Regions from separate parts of the Homo sapiens genome. Here regions 1 and 2 are each linked to region 3. Evidence: fine-mapped QTL for protein levels in blood plasma. A gene starts in region 3. Each other region holds a variant in brackets. All regions are shown on one strand. Distances are from middle to middle.

Region 1 (8,178 bases), 99 kb after region 3:
GGATTTCAGCTTTTCCTGAACCCTATAATTAATTGCCTATAATTTCTCTCCTCTAAATTTGCATAGCCCTTTGATCATAAATAATTTCCCTTTATACTACAGTATTTGTGTAATTGTCTTTTCATCCTTCTAAATACATGCTACTGGTCAGCAACAACTGTTACTAGACTTAAAGAAAGTAAGAAGGTTCATCTCTAAGGTTTTCTCCAGCTTCAAATGACTATGACTCTATAACTTAAGAACATGAGTTTCTGGGCAACTTAGTGCAGTTTCCATGAGTATCATCTTCTTGGAAGCCTCTGCTAATAGAAGACAGAAAGATCAAAAACACAGTTGTTTCCAGGCACGGTGGCTCATGCCTGCAATTCTAGCACTTTGTGAGGCCAAGGTTGGAGAATCGCTTCAGCCCAGAAGTAACCTGGGACCTGGCATAATAACAGAGCAAGACCCTGTCTCTACAAAAAATTAGCCAGCACGGCCGGACGCGGTGGCTCACGCCTGCAATCCCAGCACTTTGGGAGGCTGAGGAGGGTGGATGGTGAGGTCAAGAGTTCAAGACTAGCCTGGCCAAGATGGTGAAACCCCGTCTCTACTAAAAAGTACAAAAATTACAGCGTGCCTGTAATCCCAGCTACTTGGGAGGCTGAGGCACGAGAATCGCTTGAACCTGGGGGACGGAGGTTGCAGTGAGCCGAGATCGCACCACTGCACTCCAGCCTGGGTGACAGAGCGAGACTCTATCTCAAAAAAAAAAAAAAAAAAAAAAATTAGCCAGGATGGTGGCATGTGCCTATAGTCTTAGCTTCTCTGGAGCCTGAGGTGGGAGGATCTCTTGAATTGGTGAGGTCGAGGGTGCAATGAGCCATGATTGCACCACTGAACTCCAGCCTGGTCATCAGAGAGACACTCAATCTCTCTAAAAACAAACAAACAAACAAACAGGCCGGGCACAGTGGCTCATGCTTATAATACCAGCACTTTGGGAGACCAAGGCGGGTGGATCACCTGAAGTTAGGAGTTCGAGACCAGCCTGGCCAACATGGTGAAACCCTGTCTCTACTAAAAATACAAAAATTAGCTGGGTGTGGTGGCATGCGCCTGTAGTTCCAGCTACTCACGAGGCTAAGGCAGGAGAATCACTTGAACTCAGGAGGCAGAGGTTGCAGTGAGCCGAGATCATGCCATTGCACTCCAGCCTGGGCGACAAGAGCAAAACTCCATCTCAAAAAAAAAAAGTTAACATGAGCAATTTCATTGTTCATAAAGACCAAGTAAGGTAAGAAAGACAGGCACTAGTAGGATGTAATTTGGGGTGGTTAAAGAAGATGTGATGAATTCAGTTAACGGAGGAGCCAGTGTGAGACCAGGACTTCTAGTACACCTGGTCTAGGACTCTTGCAACCCCTCCACATGCACTTGCCCACGGGAACATCCCATAATTCTTTGTTGTCATATTTGCTCCCCACACATTGCCATCCAGTCTCTGCATTACTCATTAAAGATTTTCCTCTTCCAGTTTCCTACTATGTTGGAACCTTGGGGACTCACACTGAGATCAAGAGAGTGGCAGAGGAAAAGGTCACTTTGCCCTGCCACCATCAACTGGGGCTTCCAGAAAAAGACACTCTGGATATTGAATGGCTGCTCACC[G/A]ATAATGAAGGGAACCAAAAAGTGGTAAGTAGACACCTGGCTGGAGTCCCTCCTCCTTCTTGTCCTCCTGCATTTGCCTTTCTTCAGTCTTCCAGTCTTTCTTTCTGGCTCTGAAAGAGCTGGAGTTCCTTTTTCATCTGGCTTCTACTTGAAAGACTTTAGATACAAAACTATAGAGAAGAAAGAGTATTGCTGGGTGTGGTGGCTCACACCTATAATCTCAGCATTTTGGGAGGCCAAGGTGGGTGGATCACCTGAGGTCAGGAGTTCGAGACCAGCCTGGCCAACATGGTGAAACCTTGTCTCTACTAATAATAGCCGGGTGTGGTGGCCTATGCCTGTAAACCTAGCTACTTGGGAGGCTGAGGCAGGAGAATTGCTTAAACCCCAGAGGTGGAGGTTGCAGTGAGCTGAGATCATGCCACTGCACTCCAGCCTGGGTGACACAGCAAGACTCCATCTCAAAAAAAAAGAAAGAAAGAAAAATTAGCCAGATGTGGTGGCACATATCTGTAGTGTCAGCCACTTGGGAGGCTGAGGTGGGAGGATCACTTGAGCCCAGGAGTGCCAGGCTGCAGTGAGCTATGATCACACCTGTAAATAGCCACTGCACTTGAGCCTGGGCAATACAGCAAGACCCTGTCTCTAAATAAATAAGAAGTTGTCAGGCCGGGTGCAGTGACTCACACCTGCAATCCCAACACTTTGGGAGCCTGAGGGGGGTGAACTGCTTGAGCCCAGGAGTTCAAGACCAGCCTGGGCAACAAAGTGAGACTCCCTCTGTACCAAAAAAATTTTTTTAATTAGCCAGATGTGATGCCACATGCCCATAGTCCCAGCTTCTCACGAGGCTGAAGCAGGAGGATCGCTTGAGTGCAGGAGGATCGCCTGAGTGCAGAAGGATCGCTTGAGCCCAGGAGGTCAAGGCTGCAGTGAGCTGAGATCACACCACTGTACTCCAGCCTGGGCAACAGACCCAGACACTGTTTCTAAAAAAACAAAAACAAAACAAAAGCAAAAGAAAGAAAAAAGTTGTCCTTTCCTCTTCTCTGTCTACACCACTAATTTTATAACATGGTTTATGTTGGGAAGAGCTAAGGTTTTCACTGAAAACAGATTTCAGGATCACTATTATAGTGTAACTTGCTTAAATAGCTGTCTACATCACCTCATTATATTGATATTGCTTGTCATTTTGTTCTCATACAGCAACATCCTAAGATACTATCTGTTCTCTGTAGAGCGAGGTCACTTTAACCTGAGTAGGTTTATTGATTTATTTATTTTTTTATTTTGGGACAGAGTCTCACTTTGTTGTCCAGGCTGGAGTGCAATGGCTCAATCTTAGCTCACTGCAACCTCCACTCACAGGGTTCAAGCGATTCTCCCGCTTCAGCCTCTTGAGCAGCTGGGATTACAGACGTGCACCACCACGCCTGGCTGATTTTTGTTGTTGTTGTTGTTTGAGATGAAGTCTCACTCTGTCGCCCAGGCTGGAGTGCTGTGGTGCCATCTCAGCTCACTGCCACCTCCGCCTCCTGGGTTCAAGCGATTCTCATGCCTCCAACTCCTGAGTAGCTGGGATTACAGGCATCCACCACCACGCCCAGCTAATTTTTGTTTTTTTAGTAGAGATTGAGTGTCGCCATGCTGGTCTCGAACTCCTGACCTCAGGTGTTCGGCCTGCCTCGGCCTCCCAAAGTGCTGGGATTACAGGCGTGAGCCACTGTGCCAGACCTCTGAGTATGTTTATTTTAACAGCTTCTTGGTCAGCCTAGATTTGATACTCTCAGTTCTGAATGAAGTGATGTTCATGTTTATTACAGCCCATGTTCCTGTAATAAAAATCCAAGAATGACTCTGATAGATTCTCTTCTTTGATCACACTTGAGGCAGGTTCTTGCGGTCTTTCTGACTAGAGCTAATCTTGGACTTCCCTCTCTGCCCTCGTAGAATACATTTTGAGCAAGAATGCTGCTAAGTCAGGTTAGTGAAAATGCTCCACTCTTGGTATCTTATTACCCTATCCTGCCTACAATAATAATCCTATCAAGCAGGTTCAATCAGAAACCCCCTCATCTCTGATGTTCCCTCTTAGTAATTTCATGACCCTCACCCTGCTCCTTGGTTGTAAACTCCCCTTGTACTTGCTGGAATCAGAGTCAAGCCCAATCTCTGACTCACAGGTCTTCATACCTATTACCATGGCGCCTCTTGAATAGTCTGTTTTACTATCTTTAACAAGTTTTGGCCAGGTGCGGTGGCTCACACCTGTAATCCCAGCACTTTGGGAGGCCAAGGTGGGTGGATAACCTGAGGTTAGGAGTTCAAGATCAGGCTGGGCAACATGGTGAAACTCTGTCTCTACTAAAAATACAAAAAATAAGCCAAGCCTGGTGGCATCTGCCCGTAATCCCAGCTACTCAGGAGGCCAAGGCAGGAGAATAGCTTGGAGCTGAGATCGAGCCATTGCACTCCAGCCTGGGCAACAGAGCAAGACTGTCTCAAAAAAAAAAAAGTTTCACTGGATAATTTTCTCATTAGCAATTTCACACATCTAACTTTCACCCAAGTATTTTCATTTGAATTAAAGAAAAAAAGACTTGCTTGGTTATATAGCCAAGTGAATATAAGGATTAGGATGTTAATTATTGATTTCAAAAAGCCCTTGATATGGCTTTAAGCAGTCACAATTCCCTGCTTGTCTTCAGTTGATACTGTGAAGCAAGGATGTCCATTTATTCAATCATTCAGATTACACAAACTTATTTAGCACTTACTGTATGCCATGCTAGGTACCAGGATACAATAGTGAAGAAGACATCATAGTCCTTGCCTTCTTAGAGGTTATAGTGAGAAGACATTTAATAATTTTTTACAAAGAGCCTGGCACAGTGGCTAGTGTCTGCAATCTCAGCTACTCAGGAGGCTGAGGTGGGTAGATTGCTTGAACCCAGGAGTTTGAGACCAGCCTGGGTGACACAGTGAGATTCTATCTCTTAAATAATTTTTCTTTTAAGAAAGGAGGGGAAGGGGTAGTTAGAAAGGTAGGAACAAAGAAACCAATAAATATGCCAGGTGCAAATCTGTTTAGCACGTATTATCTCATGTTATTTAATATGTGCCAGTTGCAGTAGCTTGTGCCTGTAGTCCCAGCTACTCGGGAGGTTGAGGTGGGAGGACTACTTGAGGCCAGGAGTTCCAGATGGCCTGAGCAACAGAGTGAGAACTCCCATTTCTAAAACAATTTTTAAAATTTGTTAATGTAATACTGATAACTAGGATTAATGGGCCCATTTTACAAATAAGGAGCTGAGGTATGCCCACATGTGTGTAAACACACAAACATAGTGAACAAATTGCCTAAGGTCACCTAATTTGCATTTTCAAATTAGGCACCCTGGGCTGGGCCGGGCGGGCACAGTGGCTCATGCCTGTAATCCCAGCAGTTTGGGAGGCCCAGGCAGGAGGTCCACTTGAGCTCAGGAGTTCAAGACCAGCCTGGGCAACATGGTGAAACCCCACCTCTACTAAAATTACAAAAATTAGCTGGGCATGGTGGCGCAGGCCTATAATCTCAGCCACTTATGAGGCTAAGGTGGGAGAATGGCTGAGCATGGGAAGTCGAGGCTGCAGTGAGCAGAGATGGCGCCACTGCACTCCAGCCTGGGTGACAGGAGACCATTTCAAAACAACACAAATGAACAAAAAACAAATTAGGCACCCTGACCTCAGTGCCTGGTCTGAGAACCACTAGCTGTATTACCTTCATAAATAATGTGAAAGTGTAATATGTGCTATGTAGGCTGCTTCTCTGAGAAAACACCAAATGGCGGAAAAATCCTGATCTAAAACATCAAGAGAGATCTGCATCCATCTCCATTCAGAGCAGTTTTACGACTGCTCTGCAGGCGATGGCACAGCAGAATGACTGCCAGAAAGTTGAGCTGCTCCATCTGTTCTATATAAGTCCTAACAAATTGTTCCAGGTCCACCAGGAATGACAAACAGCCCCAAACCACTGAAATTCATATTTTTAATTTTTTTATTTGTTTGCAAAAGGACTAAATTGATGTTCATTTTTCTCCCATCACACCCTGATGAACTGCTTAGTCTCAACACTACACTTCTTAGGATAAAAAACAAAATAGGCTGGGCACAGTGGCTCACACCTGTAATCCTAGCACTTTGGGAGGCCCAAAGTATAATACTAGCACTTTGGGTGGGCAGATCATTTGAGGTCAAGAGTTTGAAACCAGCCTGCCCAACATGGTGAAACCCTCTCTCGACTAAAAACACAAAAAATTAGCCAGGCATGGTGGTAGGCACCTGTAATCCCAGCTACTTGGGAGACTGAGGCAGGAGAATTGCTTGAACCTGTGAGGCGGAGGTCACAGTGAGCCGAGATCGCACCACTGCACTCCAGTCTGGGTGACAGAGTGAGACTCCATCCCCACCCCGCAAAAAATAGTATCTTGCAATTGTATAATTTCACCTTTCCAAAGATGTCAGATGCTTGCCTGCATGTTATCCCTTTTTTCTTCATTAAATATTGAGACAGTCTTGGCCTGGGCAACACAGTGAGACCTGTCTCTTAAAAGTAGGTGTGTGATGGCCGGGCGTGGTGGTTCACACCTGTAATTCCAGCACTTTGGGAGGCTGAGGCCAGTGGATCACAAGGTCAGGAGTTTGAGACCAACCTGACCAACATGGTGAAACCCCGTCTCTACTAAAAATACAAAAATTAGCCAGGAGTGATGGCGGGTGCCTGTAGTCCCAGTTACTCAGGAGGCTGAGGCAGGAGAATCGCTTGAACCTGGGATGAGGAGGTTGCAGTGAGCAGAGATCATACCGCTGCACTCCAGCCTGGGCGACAGCATGAGACAACATCTCAAAAAAAAAAAAAAAAAAGTGTGTGTCAGGCCAGGCACAGTGGCTCACACCTGTAATCTCAGCACTTTGGGAGGCCGAGGTGGGCAGATCACGAGGTCAGGAGCTCAAGGGCAGCTTGACCAATATGGTGAAACCCCATCTCTACTAAAAATACAAAAAAATTAGCCGGGCATGGTGGCACACACATGTAGTTCCAGCTACTTGGGAGGCTGAGGCAGAAGAATCACTTGAACCCAGGAGGCGAAGGTTGCAGGGAGCTGAGATTGCATCACTGTACTCCAGCCTGGGCAAAAGAGAGAGTCTCTGTCTCAAAAAAGAAAAGAAAAATGTGGCCAGGCACAGTGGCTCACGCCTGTAATCCCAGCACTTTGGGAGGCCAAGGCGGGTGGATCACAAGGTCAAGAGTTCAAGACCAACCTGGCCAATATGGTGACACCCAGTCTCTACTAAAAATACAAAAATTAGCCGGGCGTGGTGGTGTGTGCCTGTAGTCCCAGCTACTCGAGAGGCTGAGGCAGAAGAATCGCTTGAACCCGGGAGGTGGAGGTTGCAGTGGGCCAAGATTGTGCCACTGCACTCCAACCTGGGCGACAGAGCTAGGCTCCGTCTCAAAAAGAAAAAAAAGTGTGTGTCTTTGTGTGTGTGTGTGTGTGTGTGGAGACAAGATTTTAGGGAAAGCGAGGAAAAGCAGATGGAGTCAGACCTACCTGAACGTACTGTGCACTATGGTAGCAGTATGCCCCAAACACCACAGGTTGAAGCAGGGAGTCACCATTCTAACTGGGGAGTCGAGAAAGGCTATATACAGAAAGTGGTCCTTGAGCTTGATCTTGAGGCCTTATATAGGTGTTGTTGAGGCAAAAATAGAAGAGGAAAAGGCATTTCAGAAAGAAAAAACTGTGTAATCAAAGCCGAGATCTATCAGAAGACACTATTCAGAATCAAGAAACATCAGGTTTGGGGACAACGAGATTCAGAGATGTGAGGGCAGGAGTCAAAAATGAGGCATGGTCCAGACTGCGCTGGCATAGGTGTAACCTTCAGAAGCCAAGCCTTCATCAGTGTGCACAGGTGATGGGAAACAGATTTTCAGCCAGGTGAGCTTTGCTACACAAACGTGTGGAATTGTAGCAGGCTGTTTCTCCCTAACAATCACACAGATGGGCCTGCATGACAGTCACACAGACAGGCCTGCACAGCACTCCAGTTACACAGACAAATTTCCACAGCACTGCCTTAACACTGAGCAAATAATTAAACCTAGGGAAATCGGTGCCCAGACATCAAAGCTAGAAATATAAACATATGGTCAGTAGGAGACGTGCATAGGCTTCTCCCTATCCTGGAGCAAGTCAAAATAACGGAGACAGTCTCACATTCCTAGTGCCAGGACCTGTCTTGGGTTGTCGAAATCTGAGACAGTCAAGGTAACAGAGGCAGTTGTTTGAATAGATTTATTGGAAAGTCTAAGCAGCTCTTCAGACCAAGCTGTACATGAGATAAGATAGGAATAATCACTCCGGATGGGCACGGTGGCTCATGCCTGTAATCCCAGCACTTTGGGAGACTGAGGTGGGCAGGTCGCTTAAGGTCAGGGGTTTGAGACCAGCTTGGCCAAACTGGTGAAACCCCATC
Region 2 (8,178 bases), 90 kb after region 3:
CTGGGTCCTTGTATCCACACCCCTAATATTAAGGACTCTAGGAACAAATATCCTCCTTGGAGGGGTGGGAGGAGATAACTAGGCACTGTATTGACTCCCAGATGTCTGAAATTCCACTGATAACTTGCAAGCTTCATTCCTTTGGCTTTAGGCTTTAAACTGTTTAAGTACCAAATATATGTTTGTATTTAAAAAGACAGTAAAATGTCAGGGATTTAGCAGCTCATAGTAAATATGGTCTTCTTCTTCTGAAGACTCTCATAAAAGGAGTGGACTGGAGAGGTTCTGGGGTTGGGCTGGGTGTGGGATTGGGAAAGCAAATGGCAGAGGAACTTCACTAGTTCGTGACAAGGGAGGCTAGGGGGAGCTGATCGGAGAGGACAGGTGGTGCCATTAGCTTCCAGGTGCTCCCTCCGTCTAGAATTCTTTTCCCTCCCTCTGTGTGGTAAAAACATGCCTGTCTCTCCAGAACTACCTCCATCCTTACTCACTGCAGTCTTCCTTAATTGCTCGTCAGGAATGACCTTCTCTACAATATTATCAATTTTCTTAGGTGTGCTAAGATGGCTGTTGTTGTGAGGAATAACATGCTTATTTTTAGGAGATGTGCACTGCAACATTTAGACTTAGTGTCATGCCATCCACAACTTGATTTCAACTGGTACAACAAAAAAAAAATAGGAGAGAGCACACAAAAGCGAGCAAATATAGCCAAATGCTAACAGTGATGAAGCAAAATGACTTCCAAACTTTTCACAATCCTGGTTTGTCCATGTGGTATGTTTTCTGGTTTTCCCTGTCTTTCAAAATGCAACACGGTGGTGGCCCATGCCTGTGATCCCAGCACTTTCAGAGGCCGAGGCGGGAGGACTGCTTGAGCTCAGGAGCCTGAGGCCAGCCTGGGCAACATAGTGAAACCCTGTTTCTGAAAAAAAAAAAAAAAAAAATTTAGGTCAGGTGCGGTGGCTCGCACCTGTAATCCCAGCACTTTGGGAGGCTGAAGTGGGAGGATCACCTGAGGTCAGGACTTTGAGACCAGCCTGGCCAACACGGTGAAAGCCCATCTCTACTAAAAATACGAAAATTTGCCAGATGTGGTGGCATGCGCCTATAATCCCAGCTATTCACAAGGCTGAGGCAGGAGAATCGCTTGAACCCAGGAGGCCGAGGTTTCGGTGAGCTGAGATCACGCCACTGCACTCCAGCCTGGGTGACAGAGTGAGACTCCGTCTAAATTAAAAAAAAAAAATTTCATTAGCCAGGCATGGTGGTGAAAGCCTATAGTCCCAGCTACTTGGGAGGCTGAGGTGGGAGGATCACTTGAGCCCAGGGAGTTCAGGCTGCAGTGAGTTATGATTGTGCCACTGCACTCCAGCCTGGCAGAAAGAGCATCTGAGACCCTGTCTCAAAAAAAAAAAATGCAGCAAGTACAATTATTATTATTATTATTTTTTTTTTTTTTTGAGACGGAGTCTCGCTCTGTCGCCCAGGCTGGAGTGCAGTGGCTCAATCCGGCTCACTGCAAGCTCCGCCTCCCGGGTTCACACCATTCTCCTGCCTCAGCCTCCCGAGTAGCTGGGACTACAGGCGCCCACCACCTCGCCGGGCTAATTTTTTGTATTTTTAGTAGAGACGGGGTTTCACTGTGTTAGCCAGGATGGTCTCGATCTCCTGACCTCGTGATCCGCCCACCTCGACCTCCCAACGTGCTGGGATTACAGGCGTGAGCCACTGCACCCAGCCACAAGTACAATTATTAATAGTAGTTGCCATTTGCTGAGTGTGTGCTACATACCATGCGCCAGTGCTAGACACTTTCATGCATCATATGTAATGCTTACAATAACTTCCAAAGTTGATGTTTTTATTTTCCTTTTACGGAAAAGTAAACAACTTGGAGCAATCAGGGAATTAATTGGTCTTACAGCCACTACTCAAGTCCAGACCTCTCAGACTCCAAAGCTCATCCTCTTTCTATTGCATCATGCTGTGTCTTGAACTGCATACAGTGTTCCATAAACAATCTGGAAGGCAGGCACGTGCGCGCGCGCGCGCGCACACACACACACACACACACACACACACACACACACACACACCTCCTACAGAATTATATATGTAGCTGGGGTGAAGGGAAAACTTCCCGTCTGCCCGCTGAAGGTTCATTGAAAAGCACTGACAAGAGGCAGATTAATAGGAGAAAAGGCATACAAATTTAATAAACTGTTCAAGAGTGTCCAATCTTTTTGCTTCCCTGAGCCACACTGGAAGAAGAAGAATTATCTTGGGCCACACATAAAATACACTAACAACAGCTGATGAGCTAAAAAAAAAAATAGAATAAAATCACAATAAAATCTCATAATAGCAGGGCATGGTGGCTCACAGCTGTAATTCCAGCACTTCAGAAGTCTGAGGTGGGTGGATCACTGAGGTCAGGAGTTCGAGACCAGCCTGGCCAACATGGTGAAACCCCGTCTCTACTAAAAATACAAAAATTAGCCAGGCGTGGTGGCGTGGGCCTGTAATCCCAGCTACTCGGGAGGCTGAGGCACAAGAATCGCTGGAACCCGGGAGGCGGAGGTTGCAGTGAGCTGAGATTGCGCTACTGTACTCCAGCCTGGGTGACAGAGCAAGATTGTCTCAAAAAAAAAAAAACAAAAAACAAACAAACAAAAACCACAGTTCCTCCTGCCCATCTCTTTGAAGGGGGTCTTAAGGTTCAGGAGAATCTATGAGAAAATGTAAATACGGCTTGGCACAGTGGCTCACACCTATAATCCCAGCACTTTGGGAGTCCAAGATAGGCAGATCACCTGAGGTCAGGAGTTTGAGACAAACCTGACAAACGTGGCAAAACCCTGTCTCTACTAAAAATACAAAATTAACCAGGTGTGGTGGCGCATGCCTGTAATCCCAGCTATTCACGTGGCTGAGGCAGGAGAATCGCTTGAACCCAGGAGGCGGAGGTTGTGGTGAGCCAAGATTGTGCCACTGCACTCCAGCCTGGGCGACAGAGCAAGACTCCATCTCAAAAAAAAAGAAAGAAAGAAAAGAAGAAAGAAAGAGAGAGAGAGGAAGGAAGGAAGGAAGGAAGGGAGGGAGGGAGGGAGGGAGGGAGGGAGGGAAGGGAAGGAAATAAATGTAAATACCTTTTAGAGGATAAAACTTTAAACTACTCTTAATTGAGTGTAGGCAGCAGTCATGTGAGAAAAAGTCCCTTCTAGCAGAGATGAGCAGGGGAAGAGAACTAACATTTTAATGGGAGACTCCTATGTGCTTTCACAATGCTAGCTGCTTTCCTCAGTGTCTTCTTTAATTCCCATTTTGCGGATGGAAACACTAAGGCTCAGAAGGTAATTTTCTCAAGCTCCCAGAGGTCCTTTGATAAGTGCCTGAGGTGCATGCAAAAGCTCCCACTTAGGGAGAGCTTGCGGCTTCCCTGAAGGCATTCTGCCTGTGCCTAAGGAGGCAGTCCTTACCACTGCCACCACTCAGCACCTCTTCCCATAGGTAAATGCTGCAACAGAATCCTAGCAGAGACTATTCCCTTACTTGCAATTCTGCCACTAATTAGTTTTGTGACGTGACATCTCAATTCTCTGGGGTGCAATCTCCTCATAAGTTAAACTGATGATCTCTAAAGTCTTTCCTAACAAAGATGAATCTTCCAGTGCCCACGCAATCCAAGGCTAGCCACAGGATGGTCAGACTGCCCCTTTCCTCTCACCCATCAGATGGCAGACAAGCTCAGCAGCCCCCATGAGCACTGCTAAGCCTTGGAGTTAAAGACAGAGGCCGGACGCGGTGGCTCACACCTGTAATCCCAGCACTTTGGGAGGCTGAGGCGGGTGGATCATAAGGGGTCAGGAATTCGAGACGAGCCTGGCCAACATGGTGAAACCCCGTCTCTACTAAAGATACAAAAAATTAGCTGAGCATGGTGGCGCCTGCCTGTAATCCCAGCTACTTGAAAGGCTGAGGCAGGAGAATCGTTTGAACCTGGGAGGCGGAGGTTACAGCGAGCTGAGATGACGCCATTGCATTCCAGCCTGAGCAACAGGGCGAGACTCCGTCTGGGGAAAAAAAAAATAGAACCCAGGACCGGGCGCGGTGGCTCATGCCTGTAATCCTAGACTTTGGGAGGCTGAGGCGGGCAGATCACTTGAGGCCAGGAGTTTGAGACCAGCCTGGTCAACATGGAGAAACCCCATCTCTACTAAAAAAAATAGCTCGGTGGGTGGTGCAACCCTGTAATCCCAGTTACTCATGAACCCGAGATCACAGCACTGCACTCCAGCCTGGGCTACAGAGGGAGAATCTGGATTAAAAAAAAAAAAAAAAAAAAAAAAAGCCAGGCATGGTGGCTCAGGCCTGTAATCCCAGCACTTTGGGAGGCCGAGGCGGGCTGATCACCTGAGGTCAGGAGTTTGAAACCAGCTTGGCCAACGCAGTGAAATCCCGTCTCTACTAAAAATACAAAAATTAGCCAGGCATGGTGGTGCATGCCTGTAATCCCCGCTACTCAGGAGGCTGAGGCACAACAATCACTTTAACCTGGGAGGCAGAGGTTGCAGTGAGCCGAGATTGCGCGACTGCACTCTAGCCTGGGCAACAGAGTGACACTCTGTCTCAAAAAAAAAAAAAAAGAGACAGAACCCAGGCCCCTCTCTGCTTAGGTGGGTTTAAAAAAGAAAAGAAAAAAAAGTACAGAAGACCCTTTGAGCAATGTAAAAAAATGTAAAAGCTTTAATGTAAAAAAAAAGAAAGAAAGAAAGAAAAAAAAAGGGACAGAAGGAGAAGGACCTTAGAAATCTGTAGAAATCTCAGTGGCCTCCTGGAGTCTAACGAACTGAAGTTCAAGGAAGACTAGAAGTGTATGCGCCCTGATCTCATGGCTCCCTGCCTTGATGAAGCCATTTGTATTCACAGAGGGGCTCCTCCCTGCACTGCTGTATTTAATTCTGGATATGGTATAAATAGGACTTGGCTGACTGTCAAAGCACACCACCCGCCACAATGTTCCAGTTTTTTGGGGACATCAGACGAATCTGAGCCTTTGATTCCCTCTAGTGGCTTAAATTGGCAACTTTCATAGCTGGCTCTTGGCATTTGTTATTGAATGTTTAAGTATCTATTGTATGCACTAAATTGGTGCTGGGTTCTCTAGCTCTGCCTGGAATGTAGGGCACTGGTTTCATTTGAGCATTTTTGTGTCCGGTGGAAAGTGATCAGGGTTAAGCCAGAGCTCCTTCTTACAAAGCTCCTTCTTAACAAAGCTTAGCTTAGTACAGTGCAAACCAGTGAATTTCCCAGCTATTCTAAAGCTGCTTTATAGTAATTCTGGGAGGATGGGTTATTATATGGGTTATTTCTGCCGCTAAATGAGTTGTAGGACCTTGGGCTGTCTCTTTTACCCCTGGGTCTTAGTTTGCTCATTGGTAAAAATGAGCGTGTGGGTTACACTCAGATAAATTCAACAAATATTAATTGAACACCTGCAGTGTGAGACCCTGGGCTGAGTACTATGAGAAGGCAGCAATGAATGGTACTTGATGTCAAAGAGCTTACAGGATAATGGGAGAACCAGACATCCTGGAAGCCACATAAAATTGGGCAGGAGGAGGCTGGGCGTGGTAGCTCACACCTGTAATTCCAGCACTTTGGGAGGCTGAGGCGGGTGGATCACTTGAGGCCAAGAGTTCGAGACCAGCCTGACCAACATGGTGAAATCCTGTCTCTACTAAAAATACAAAAAAAAAAAAAAAAAAAAAGCTACTCGGGAGGCTGAGGCAGGAGAATCACTGGAACCTGGGAGGCGGAGGTTGCAGTGAGAGGAGATCGAGCCACTGCACTCCAGCCTGGGTGACAGAGCAAGACTATCTCAAAAAAAAAAAAAACCTGGCTGGGCACGGTGGCTGTCACCTGTAATCCCATCACTTTGGGAGGCCGAGGTGGGCGGATCACGAGGTCAGGAGATTGAGACCATCTTGGCCAACGTGGTGAAACCCTGTCTCTACTAAAAATACAAAAATTAGCTGGGTGTGGTGGCACATGCCTGTAGTCCCAGCTACTCAGGAGGCTGAGGCAGGAGAATCACTTGAACCGGGGAGTCGGAGGTTGCACTGAGCCAAGATTGTGCCACTGCACTCCAGCCTGGCGACAGAGAGACACTCCATCTCAAAAAAAAAAAAAAAAAAAACCTGGAAAGATAGCTCAAAGGGCCAATCTTAGGTTCTACAATAGTGTTATTTGCAGGAATAACTAGGGAAGTTGCATATCTTATTTTTTTTTTTTAGAGACAGGGTCTTACTCTGTCACCCATGCTGGAGTGCAGTGGTGCAATCATGGCTCACAACAGCCTCGACTTTCCAAGCTCAGGTGATCCTCCCACCTCAGCCCCCCAAGTAGCTGGGACTACAGGCTGGGCCGCCATGCCTGGCTAATTTTTGCATTTTTAGTGGAGATAGGGTTTGGCCATGTTGCCCAGGCTGGTCTCAAAACTCCTGGACTCAAGCAGTCCACCCACTCTGGCCTCCCAAAGTGCTGGGATTACAGGCATGAGCCACCGCACCCGGCCTGGAAGTTGCATA[T/A]CTTATAACCTTGGAGTAATGGCTGACAATGGCTTATGCCTGTGCCTTACCAGGATTTAGTCTCTCCTTCCCAGCCTGATGGCCTCCCATTAGCTTTGCAAAAGCGGTTGAGTTTTGGGCAAGGCCTGTTATCATTTAAACTGTAACCTAAATGTCTTCCAAAGTTAGCTTGGCCCAATAGCCCAGGAATAATTAAGGGAAAGGGAAGATCCAGGGAGGGTTAGTTTAGCTTACTGTTATAATTTTCCCACTGATATAACACTTGCCAAGGCCGTTTCAGATGCCTCTGAGGGCTCCTCCCCAGCAGTCTCAGCCCAAGCAGCCTTGCTGCAGAATGAAGCACAATCTCCCCTGCTCCATTCTTCTTCATCTCATTTCCCTGAAAGCAAGAATACCGGAAGCCATTTTCCTTCCCACAGATTGGCTGCTAATCAATTTTGGTAAATAAACAGGGAATTAGAGAATTAGAAAATAAACAGGGAGGCCGGGTTTGGTGGCTCATGCCTGTAATCCCAGCACTTTGGGAGGCCGAGGCAGGCGGATCACCTGAGGTCAGAAGTTTGAGACCAGCCTGGCTAACATGGTGAAGCCCCGTCTCTATTAAAAATACAGAAAAATCAGCCGGTGTGGCACACGCCTATAATCCCAGCTACTCCAGAGACTGAGACAGGAGAATGCCTTGAACCCAGGAGGCAGAGGTCGCAGTGAGCTGAGATCGCGCCACTGCACTCCAGCCTGGGTGACAGAGCGAGACTCCATCTCAAAAGAAAAGAAAAAGGCTGTTTCATATTTTGAAACCATCTGACAGGAAACTACAGAGAATGGAAGATAGAACTTGGGGGGATACAAGAATAGGTGTCTCTAAGGGAGGCAGGAACTCCTTGTAAGAGCCCACTTGTTCCCCAAGGTATTTCTGCACTCACAGAGAGGTCGGGGGCAGGCGGTGGGGGAGGAGGGTAGTAACCTGTCTCTAGGAAGGCTCTAAGGAGCAACCTGGAACCCAGCCCGTGACCTGGTATTGAAGCCTGTTTTGGGGAGGATGCCAAGCCCTGACTTCCTGTCTCAGTGGGAGGAAAAAAAAAGTGTTTTTGGGAAAAAGCAGAGAAATTAAGGGACCTGAGACAGTTTAGCCCAGGCACAATGGATGGAACAGAAGTGTTTCCAAGAGCTTCATTTAGAGGCACAAGAGAAATGAAAAATAAAGAAATAAAGCAAAGCAGGGCTGTGACTTCCTCTAACACAACAACTGAGGGTGGACACTATTTGCAGAGCTGTGTGAGCATCAGCAGTGGAAAGGGAGGCGCCGCCTGGGGAAAGAACACAGGGATGCCTGTTGGACAGATGCCTGCATCACAATGGACTTGAATCTAAACTCAGTGCCTACCCTCCCCAGCTCACCCCCAAATAAAACACATCGTACTCCTGGCTTCCCCATCACTGCTACTGCGATCACCATCCTACCAGTCATGCAAGCTTGAAAACAATCTTTGGTTTTTTTTTTTTTTTCTGAGAGGGAGTCTCGCTCTGTCACCCAGGCTGGAGTGCAATGGTGCGATCTCGGCTCACTGCAACCTCTGCCTCCTGG
Region 3 (8,178 bases):
CCCAGCCTAAGGTGCTCTTTCCTTTCTTGGAATTCCCACTGTTTTTTATTGTCAGGATAATTTACTGTGGCATTTAACTATCTAACTTTCTTGTATTGTTGTTGAAACATTTCCCATGTTGGTGTTTTTTCTCCCTCTGAACTGAGAGGTCCGTCCATTCAGGGTAAGGACTATCTCGTAATCTTGGGATCCTCCGAGGCACCCAGCCCAGAGTGGGGCCCAGCACTGGTAGGGATGGGATGTGAGTTACAAACCATCGCAGAAGCACTCTCTCTCTGCTCTTCCTGCCCAGAGACCCATGCCAATAGAAAAGAGGTTTCAGATTTAGAGACAGACACCTTCAGGGACCCAAAGATCCTCTTCCAAAAAATATGTGCCATATTGGCTACAAGACTTGGGGCTGGGAAAATTGAGTGCTTGTGACCCAATCTCAGTCTAATCATTTCCTGTGCTGGTGACTAATGACCTAGAGCCAAAGGCGCCTGTTACCTTCGGCTTGAGCAACTGGGTTTAAACACATATCTGCCTACACCCACACACATCTGTCTTCATGCGCACACCAGCCCTCAAGCAATAAACAGCACTGGCATTACTAAGTTCTTGAGAAAGGCCACCAGCAGCGGTGGGGTGGAGGTGAGGCTTTAAAACTTGTGCAAAAACCCCACCTCTAGAGAGAAATAAAAAGGGGGAATCTGGGTGAAGAATTTTTGTACTATTTTCAACTTTTTTGTAAGCCCAAAATGTCAATTTTTTTTTTAATTATAAAGCAGAAACAACAAAAGAGTTACCTTCTGTATGTAGTTTTTCTGCCACCTTCTCCAGCCTTTAAGAATTACTGTTTTTGGCTGGGGATGGTGGCTCATGCCCGTAATCCCAGCATTTTGGGAGTTCGAGTCAGGTGAACTGCTTGAGCCCAGGAGTTTGAGACCAGCCTGGGCAATACAGCGAAACCCAATCTCTACCAAAAATACAAATATTAGCCGGGCATGATGGTGTGAGCCTGTAGTCTCAGCTACTTGGAAGGATGAGGTGGGAGGATCACTTGCACCCAGGAGGCAGAGGTTGCAGTGAACCTGGGTGACAGAGTGAGGCTCTGTCTCAAAAAAAAAAAAAGAAAAGAAAAAAGACGGTTTTTTCAACATATTCATTTACAAATTATAGTTGTGAATGTATCTATTTCCCCTATTAGACAATTAGTATGAAATGGAAAATAAAGTTACTTCGGAGTCAAAGAGACCTTTTAAACACTTCTCAATATAAAAAATAATATTTTTAAATATTAGAATATTAATATTGGAATAGAAGCATTTTAATTCTATTGTGATCTGGGGCAAGATATTTAGGCCTCTCTAAGTTATAGTTTCCTTGTCTTCCTATTCATGCTAAGGGATGGTGATTTTTTTTTCAGTGACTATCCCTTAGCAGTATAATAAGAATGATATAAAAAGGTCAATAATATGACCCAATAAAAACCACGTAATAATATAATATGATTCTGGGTCCATACTTGGTGTTCATGACATACTCCTCCCAGGTTTTTTTAAATGTCAACTTCCAAGTTCTACTCACTTTGTGTCCTCACACCTAAAAAAGCACCTGGCATAGTGTGGATGCTAACACATCGGTATCGAAGGGGTGAGGGAGTGAGTGGAGAAATGCTGCAATTCTAAAGCAATGCTCCAGCTGATCCGCGAGCCCTAGGAACAGCCCCAGCTTTTGCAAGTCCTCTGAGTGACCTTGTGAAACTTCCATAACCTCTCCAGGCCTTTGCTTTCCTAGTCTGCGAAATGGGACGGGTTTTCATTACACATTTGCATTTCATTGCAAATGTGTGACTCGGCAGCCCACCGGCCCCGGCGGGGTTCATCTTTCTTCTCAAGAGCGCTGGCCCCGGCTTCCAACCTGGGCTCTGGCGAGGCCGAAGGTGAGCGATTGCGTCATCATGCCTCTGGGCAGCTGAGGGAGAAGCCCTCCAGGGACATTCAGAGACTGGGACCAGAGTTTCTGAGAGGCCCTGGGCACAAGGTCAGGGCAGGAGGTCCAGGCAGCTGAGGTCTGAGCGCCACCCTCACTGCCCTTTCTTAGTCTCGCTGCCTCCCGCTGCCGCTGAGCAGCAGGGTAGTGAAGGGCAGACTCCCAGGGGCCGACCCTGGGGCGGGGCTGCTCGGCTCCGCGGAACCCACCGTCCGCCCCCGTCCGGCCGCCAGCCTCCTGCCCTCCGCGAGCCTCCTGGGCCGGGTTCCCGGAGCCCGGGCGCGCAGGCCCTGGCACCAGGGGGATTCTGCTCCCTCTGCCTTATGTTCTTTCTGAAAGGGGGTGGTGCACATTTTGGCCAGGGCCACGTGCAGAGCACTTTGCTGCAAAGCATCTCGATAGACCTCTTTCCACGGGGCTGTGGGTCCCCTTCCCCTGGGTGCTGGCTGGCTTAGCTCTGCTCGGGACCTGAGGGAGCGCTGCTGCAAATACCGACAGTAGAAAGCGAGCGAACGCGAAAGGCCCCAGGAAAGCCAGGCCAAGGGGGGTAGCCGGGTGCCAAAGCAGGCAGTCGGTGGGGAGAGCCCTGGTCGGCCGGCCGCTGGCTGCCTTCGCACCCACTTCCGCGCCCCGCCGTCGGCCTGGTCAGTCTGGTGGCTTTACACTAACAGAACCAGACGGGGAGGGAGAGGAGAGGCGAGAAGAGCGCAGAGGACAGAGGGGAGAGGGCATGAGGAGACGAGGAGGGAGAGGCAAGAATGCGAACAAGGAGACCTAGAGAGGAAGAGATGGAAGAGAGAAACGCCAGATTTGTGAGAGACGTGGAAGCAGAGAGAAACGAGAGTAAAAAAGAAGCGAGAGAGAAGTGGAGAGAAGGACCAAGTGAGAGCAGAGCTCTAGGAACGGACAAGGCCTCGTCCATGGGCTCTCAGCCGAGGTGTCACCAATGCCTCCTGCAAAGAATCAATCCTACGCCCGGCGCCTCTCAACCCACCCGCCTCTGCACGGCCCCAGGTCTCCCCCGGCCCTCCCTGCCCGGCCAGCTCACGCTTCTCCCCGACCGGCCCCCACCGCAAACCCCAAACGCCGCGCGGGAGGGAGGGAGGGAAGGAGGGAACAGCGAGAGAGAGAGGGAGGGGCTGCGGTAGGAGGCAACCATGTGGTTCCAGCTGAATTTTTTTTTTCCCTCTCTCTTTCTTCACTCCTTTTTCTTTCCAAACAGGGAAAAGTGTTCCACGAAGCGGTAGCGCCTTTTCGCCTCGCGTTTTCCTCCCTGACCCTGGTCCCGGCTCCCGTCCGGGCGCCAGCTGGTGGGGCGAGCGCCGGGAGCCCATCTGCCCCCAGGGGCACGGGGCGCGGGGCCGGCTCCCGCCCGGCACATGGCTGCAGCCACCTCGCGCGCACCCCGAGGCGCCGCGCCCAGCTCGCCCGAGGTCCGTCGGAGGCGCCCGGCCGCCCCGGAGCCAAGCAGCAGCTGAGCGGGGAAGCGCCCGCGTCCGGGGATCGGGATGTCCCTCCTCCTTCTCCTCTTGCTAGGTGAGTGCCTCTGGGAGGGCGGGAGTTTGGATGGCCGTGGGCAAACGCAGCCCTGCGTCCGGGAAAGACGCCGGTTCTGACCGGGTGTCCCTGCAGCCCCTGGAGTCAGCCGGCTTTTCAGTCCCTGCCTCCTGGCCACGGAGGAGCACATCTGGCAACCGAGGGCCGCCCAGTCGGCCATCGAGATTGTCTCGCACATCTGGGCCCTTGAACAGGCTTGGGGAACCGTTTGATGTGCAGGGTCCTCTTTAGGGCGGTGTTTAGTTTCTGGTGTATCTGGGAAAAGTGGAGAATTGGTGGAGGGAAGGTTTATCCAGGAATTTTTGTGCCAGGTTCCTGAGGGTGGGGGTTTTTTGTTGTTGTTTCAAACAGGCGCCTCCGAGGCTCAGATTAGAAACAGATGTGTTAAAGGGTGAGCAGAGTGGGGGATAGGCAGGGTTGGAGAGGAAAGGGGAGAGGGAAAAAGGGCAGGGCCCAAGGAGCACCAGGAAGATGCAAATGCCCCAAGTCACACAGGGAAGGAAGGAAAAGGGGAAAGGGGAAGGGTTGGGAAGGAGAGAGAAAAAGAGGAGAACAGGAATGTAAAACAGAAGAGCAAGGCTGGGGGAGTCCGAGCACAGAGAGTGAAGAAGACTTGGAAAAAACGCAGCAGAGGAACCAGAACAGAGGGAAATAGAGCAAGCACCACTTTTTCCTGAAACAGGCTCCAGAGCAAAGGGAAGAGTCCTCCTGAGCGTCCCTTCCTGGGGTCCCCCAGGCAGGACTCTTGGGGCCTCAGAGGCCCTGAGGCAGAGGCAGGTTTGCAGGAGAGGACATCAGGGATGTGGGTGGTAGGAGCCCACCGGAGTGACTGGAAATGTCTGAGGAGCCAGGGCAGGAAAGGCAGTCAGGGAGAGCCAAGGGCACGTCACTATGCACCCTGAAGCATGGGATCCACTGCAGACAGGCCCCACAGTTAGCTGGAGATCAGAAAATCAAAGAGCCAGCCAGTGGTCAAGAGTGAGCACTACCCTGAACACCAGGCCACGGGAGAGCTGGTCCTGGTTTTGAACTGACTAGCTGGGTGGCCTCAGACAACTTACTCCTTATCCAGGGCTTCCACGTCTTTAGCTCTGGAAAGAGAATACTAGATGGTTCCTAAGTCCCTTCTAGCCTACAACACCAGAGGTTTGAAGGAGGCTGGTGTCTAGAAGAACCACCAAATCCTGAAATACGTGGTTAGAGTTCTCTGTCTTTTTTGAAACTTTACAAACCAATTATACTGTATGCATACCCATCTTGGCCAGCCTCAGGCTGATAATCACTTAAGTTAGAGAAATGAAAGAGGTGGGCTAAGCCAAACTATTGCTCAAGTAAGGCAGGTGGGGAGGGGTTATTTTCTAAACTCTTTTAGACTTAACCAAATACTGCAATACTGTTCCTGTGCACATCTGGCGCAGCTGGATGGCACCTTGATTCCCTTTACTGGACTCTACCACTAGGTTACCAATCACCAGATATTTAGTAGAATGAAACTTCAGGGCTCTCTTATTAAAAACAGCTAATAGTCCTTGTTATATGAACACTTTATATGTACTATCTTGGTAATTCGTTTGTTCTTCACAACAAGCCTATTGGCTGCCCAGCCATCCTTGTTGGCTACCCTCATTTTACAGATGAAGAAACCAAGCTGTAAAAAGGCCAGGTAACTTGCTCAAGGCCACACACTCATAATTAGGGGAGACGGAATTTGAGCGCAGGCTGCCTGCTTCCAGAGAAAGCTTGCTAAAGCGCATTGCTTTACAGCCTCCTGTGGCTGCAGAGATTCTCAAAGCGCTTACCCTCTGCCACACCTGGCTGGCTCTTCGATCTCACCATCCTCTTCATGGAATGTAAGATGTCAGCGTGACCTATAGGAGAGAGGTCTGGGAAAGGGAAAAAAAATTTGCACTTTTTGAGCACCTGTCCTTATTTAAGAAATGGTTTGGAGCCATGGAATGCTCGGACACTGTTCAGCAAAGGCAGAAAGAAAACACAGCAAGTTGTCTGAATCCTGAAATCATCATACTGGTCCTTTAAAGGGGCAGTTCCAGGGCTGCTTCTGATCCTGGCTGGCATGGTTTTTGGCTTCTCTTTTTCTAAAGATTGCACAGTATCAAACAGGGGCTGGGAGGGTGGAGAGTGTTCATCGTCTGAACTGTGGGACAGTTGACTCCATGTTTCCTGGACCTGCCAATGAGTGAGGTCAAATAACCCACCTCTCTGATGTGAATGAATAAGAAGTGCTCTGAGCCCCATGGAGAAGAGAGAAGGAGCTCCAGCTCAGCCCCTCTTCTGACCCACTATCCTGCCTCACTCCCGTAACGTTCCGGCCCTCATTGTGCCACCTTAACTTCTCTCCTGGATGACTATAGTAGCTGCCACGTTCCTGTCCTGCCTGTCCTCTCTCCTCCATCCTGCACACTGCTACCCGAGTAACCCTGTGAGGCCGCTGGTAGAATGCACGAAGCTGGAACTTAAGAGTCTGGCAACCTCTCTGGTTCTTATTCTGACTCCCTTGTCTGTACAATGGGCATAGGGGTAGGGGAATGTTCAATTCAAAATTTCTATAATTCTATGGTTTTTCTCCCTTCTTCCAAAAACCTTTAGTAGTCTCATTGCTTTTAGTGTTGAGTATAAACACTTCATTCTGACATCAAAGACTTTACATAATGTCATTCACAGCTCTTCCTCTACTCACCCCCAGATACTCGGTAGGGAACCTGAATTACTTCATGCGCCCAAAACATGTCCCATGCTTCTTTCTAATTCTATGCTTTTGTTTATGATAATCCCCCCACCAAAACTGCCTCCTTATTTCCTGCCACTGCAGATCAAAATCATGTTCATTCCCCAAGTCTCACCTCAAATGCCACTTCCTCCATACACCTGTCCATGGTTTCACCAGCTGAATATACTTTTTTTCTTTTGAGTAGTCTATTTGACCTTTGAATCCCAATAGCCTTCCTCTTATGCTACTTTGTATTATGGTGTTCCAAATGCTTATCTAACACCCCATTAGAATGGAAGCTCCATGAAGGCAGGGACAGTGTCTCATTCACCTGTGAACCATGTTCAGTACCTTGCATAAACACTTGTGAACTATTTGTTAAGAGATAATTGGATTTTTGAAGTATTTGAAATCTTTAAGGTCAAGAGAGGTGAAAAATTTGGAAGATCACTAACCTTTGACTGCGGGATAACCCAATAGTGAGGAGCCCAGTTTTAATTCAGCTTGCTTTGAGCTTCCTTGTCTATTAATGCAAATAGGACCAGTCCTATTTTTAAAAAATTCACAAAGAACATTACAGGGATAGGGACCAGATAATATATTTGTCATACAAATTTATTTTGTATATCGTGTGTGCTAGTACCAGATTAAAAATAGACTTACCTGTTGAAACTTCTGCCAGCACGGGGAAGGAGCCTGGTTTCGCAGAAAGTGAGTTTGAAGAAGGCATGAATGCATAGTCCATTGGTCTGTAAGATAACGACAGGTCTCAGTAGGATTCCATGTCCTACCCTTATCTTCCCACTTTAATGGTGATGGTCATAATAACGATATATTCCCTGTAGGCTTATATCTAGTCATATCCTATTTTTGTCTTGTGCTTATCTGGGCAGGGTACACATGAGTATTATTTCATGAATGCATCTAGTGATGATGGATATTTTTTAAAGGTAGAGTCAAAGATTGCCAGAACTGGAGGAAAACTAAGAGACTGTTTAAATCAATCGTTCTTAAAATTTTGAGTCCCAGACCCTTTGTAGAATCTGATGAAAATCACAAAACCAACTTCTTAGAAAAAGACATGTATACATCAAATTTGCCAATAATATTTAAGACCTCATTGAGACCTCCTGATACTTTTCCTTGGAACCCAAGTTAATCTTTCATCTAAATCTATGCCTTCTTTTAAGATGAAGAAGAAACCAAAGTTCAGAGAGGTTTGGCTAAGGTTATACAGCTAGCTCAGTAGAAGGGCCAAGACTGGAACCCGAATTCCATGATCCTATTACACATTTTTGAAATAGAAAAATGTCTCTCCTTCCTTTTCAGCTCATGTACTTAAGCTTCAAGATCACAGCTGCTCTTGTGATGCTTCAGTTAAGTGAGCTAAATGCTGAATAATTGGCATTGGTTTTTATTATATGAGAAATTGCCTGAAAAATCAGGCAGGCGTCATAACATTTCAATTTTGCCAACGTAACTGGAAGTCCTAGGAACTCTGCAGTGTCATGTATGTCTGGTGTATTCAGGAGAAAGGAATTAATACTCAAAGTCCCAAAGATGTGGGTGTATGTGTACAAGGAACAGGACTGGAAATCAATAGCTTTAGCTCCTTAATCATTTCTTCTGGGTGAGCCTAGGAAAATCATACCACTCTGAGCCTTAGTTTTCTCCTTTGTAAAATGAAAATATGAGATTAAGGTTATCTCTAAGTTTCCTTATACCAGTAACATTCTCTGAATTTTTTTTAATTCTGAGAATTTTCTGGCTGGTCCAGATGTGGTTGTCATCAGGAACAGATGGGTGTTACCCTGCTTATTGATTTTTTCAGGCACTGTTCACTCATGGCAATTGGTAGCACATGATGATAAACCAAGAAGGGTCAACGAACTAATTGGAAGAAAACAGTAGTAATCTCC

Which allele goes with the higher level. Alleles are on the strand shown, and positions count from the first base shown. The strength of an association depends on the size of the effect and on how common the allele is.
For the plasma level of the protein whose gene starts at base 3,175 in region 3, allele G in region 1 goes with a higher level than allele A (moderate association).
For the plasma level of the protein whose gene starts at base 3,175 in region 3, allele T in region 2 goes with a lower level than allele A (weak association).

What was found. PIP is the posterior inclusion probability: the model's chance that the variant is causal. Protein levels are from antibody-based Olink assays in UK Biobank. Linkage for the fine-mapping came from a reference panel and not from the study's own genotypes, which makes the PIPs less certain.
Region 1: its variant is fine-mapped to the plasma level of the CLMP protein (UK Biobank, PIP above 0.99). The variant lies in the coding sequence of CLMP. If it changes the protein, the assay may bind it differently, which can mimic a change of level.
Region 2: its variant is fine-mapped to the plasma level of the CLMP protein (UK Biobank, PIP above 0.99).

What each region holds. Positions count from the first base shown.
Region 1 is chr11:123,091,291-123,099,468 of GRCh38, reverse strand. CLMP (CXADR like cell adhesion molecule) reads left to right here. Exons shown (of 7, transcript NM_024769.5): 2 at 1,517-1,674. Among named protein-coding and RNA genes, the nearest start is that of HSPA8, 33 kb to the right of the region's middle. The variant G/A (reference allele first, on the strand shown) is at 1,651.
Region 2 is chr11:123,100,304-123,108,481 of GRCh38, reverse strand. All of the region lies in intron 1 of CLMP (CXADR like cell adhesion molecule), which reads left to right. Among named protein-coding and RNA genes, the nearest start is that of HSPA8, 42 kb to the right of the region's middle. The variant T/A (reference allele first, on the strand shown) is at 6,594.
Region 3 is chr11:123,190,245-123,198,422 of GRCh38, reverse strand. It overlaps CLMP (CXADR like cell adhesion molecule), which reads left to right and starts at 3,175. Exons shown (of 7, transcript NM_024769.5): 1 at 3,175-3,510. The coding sequence starts at 3,483.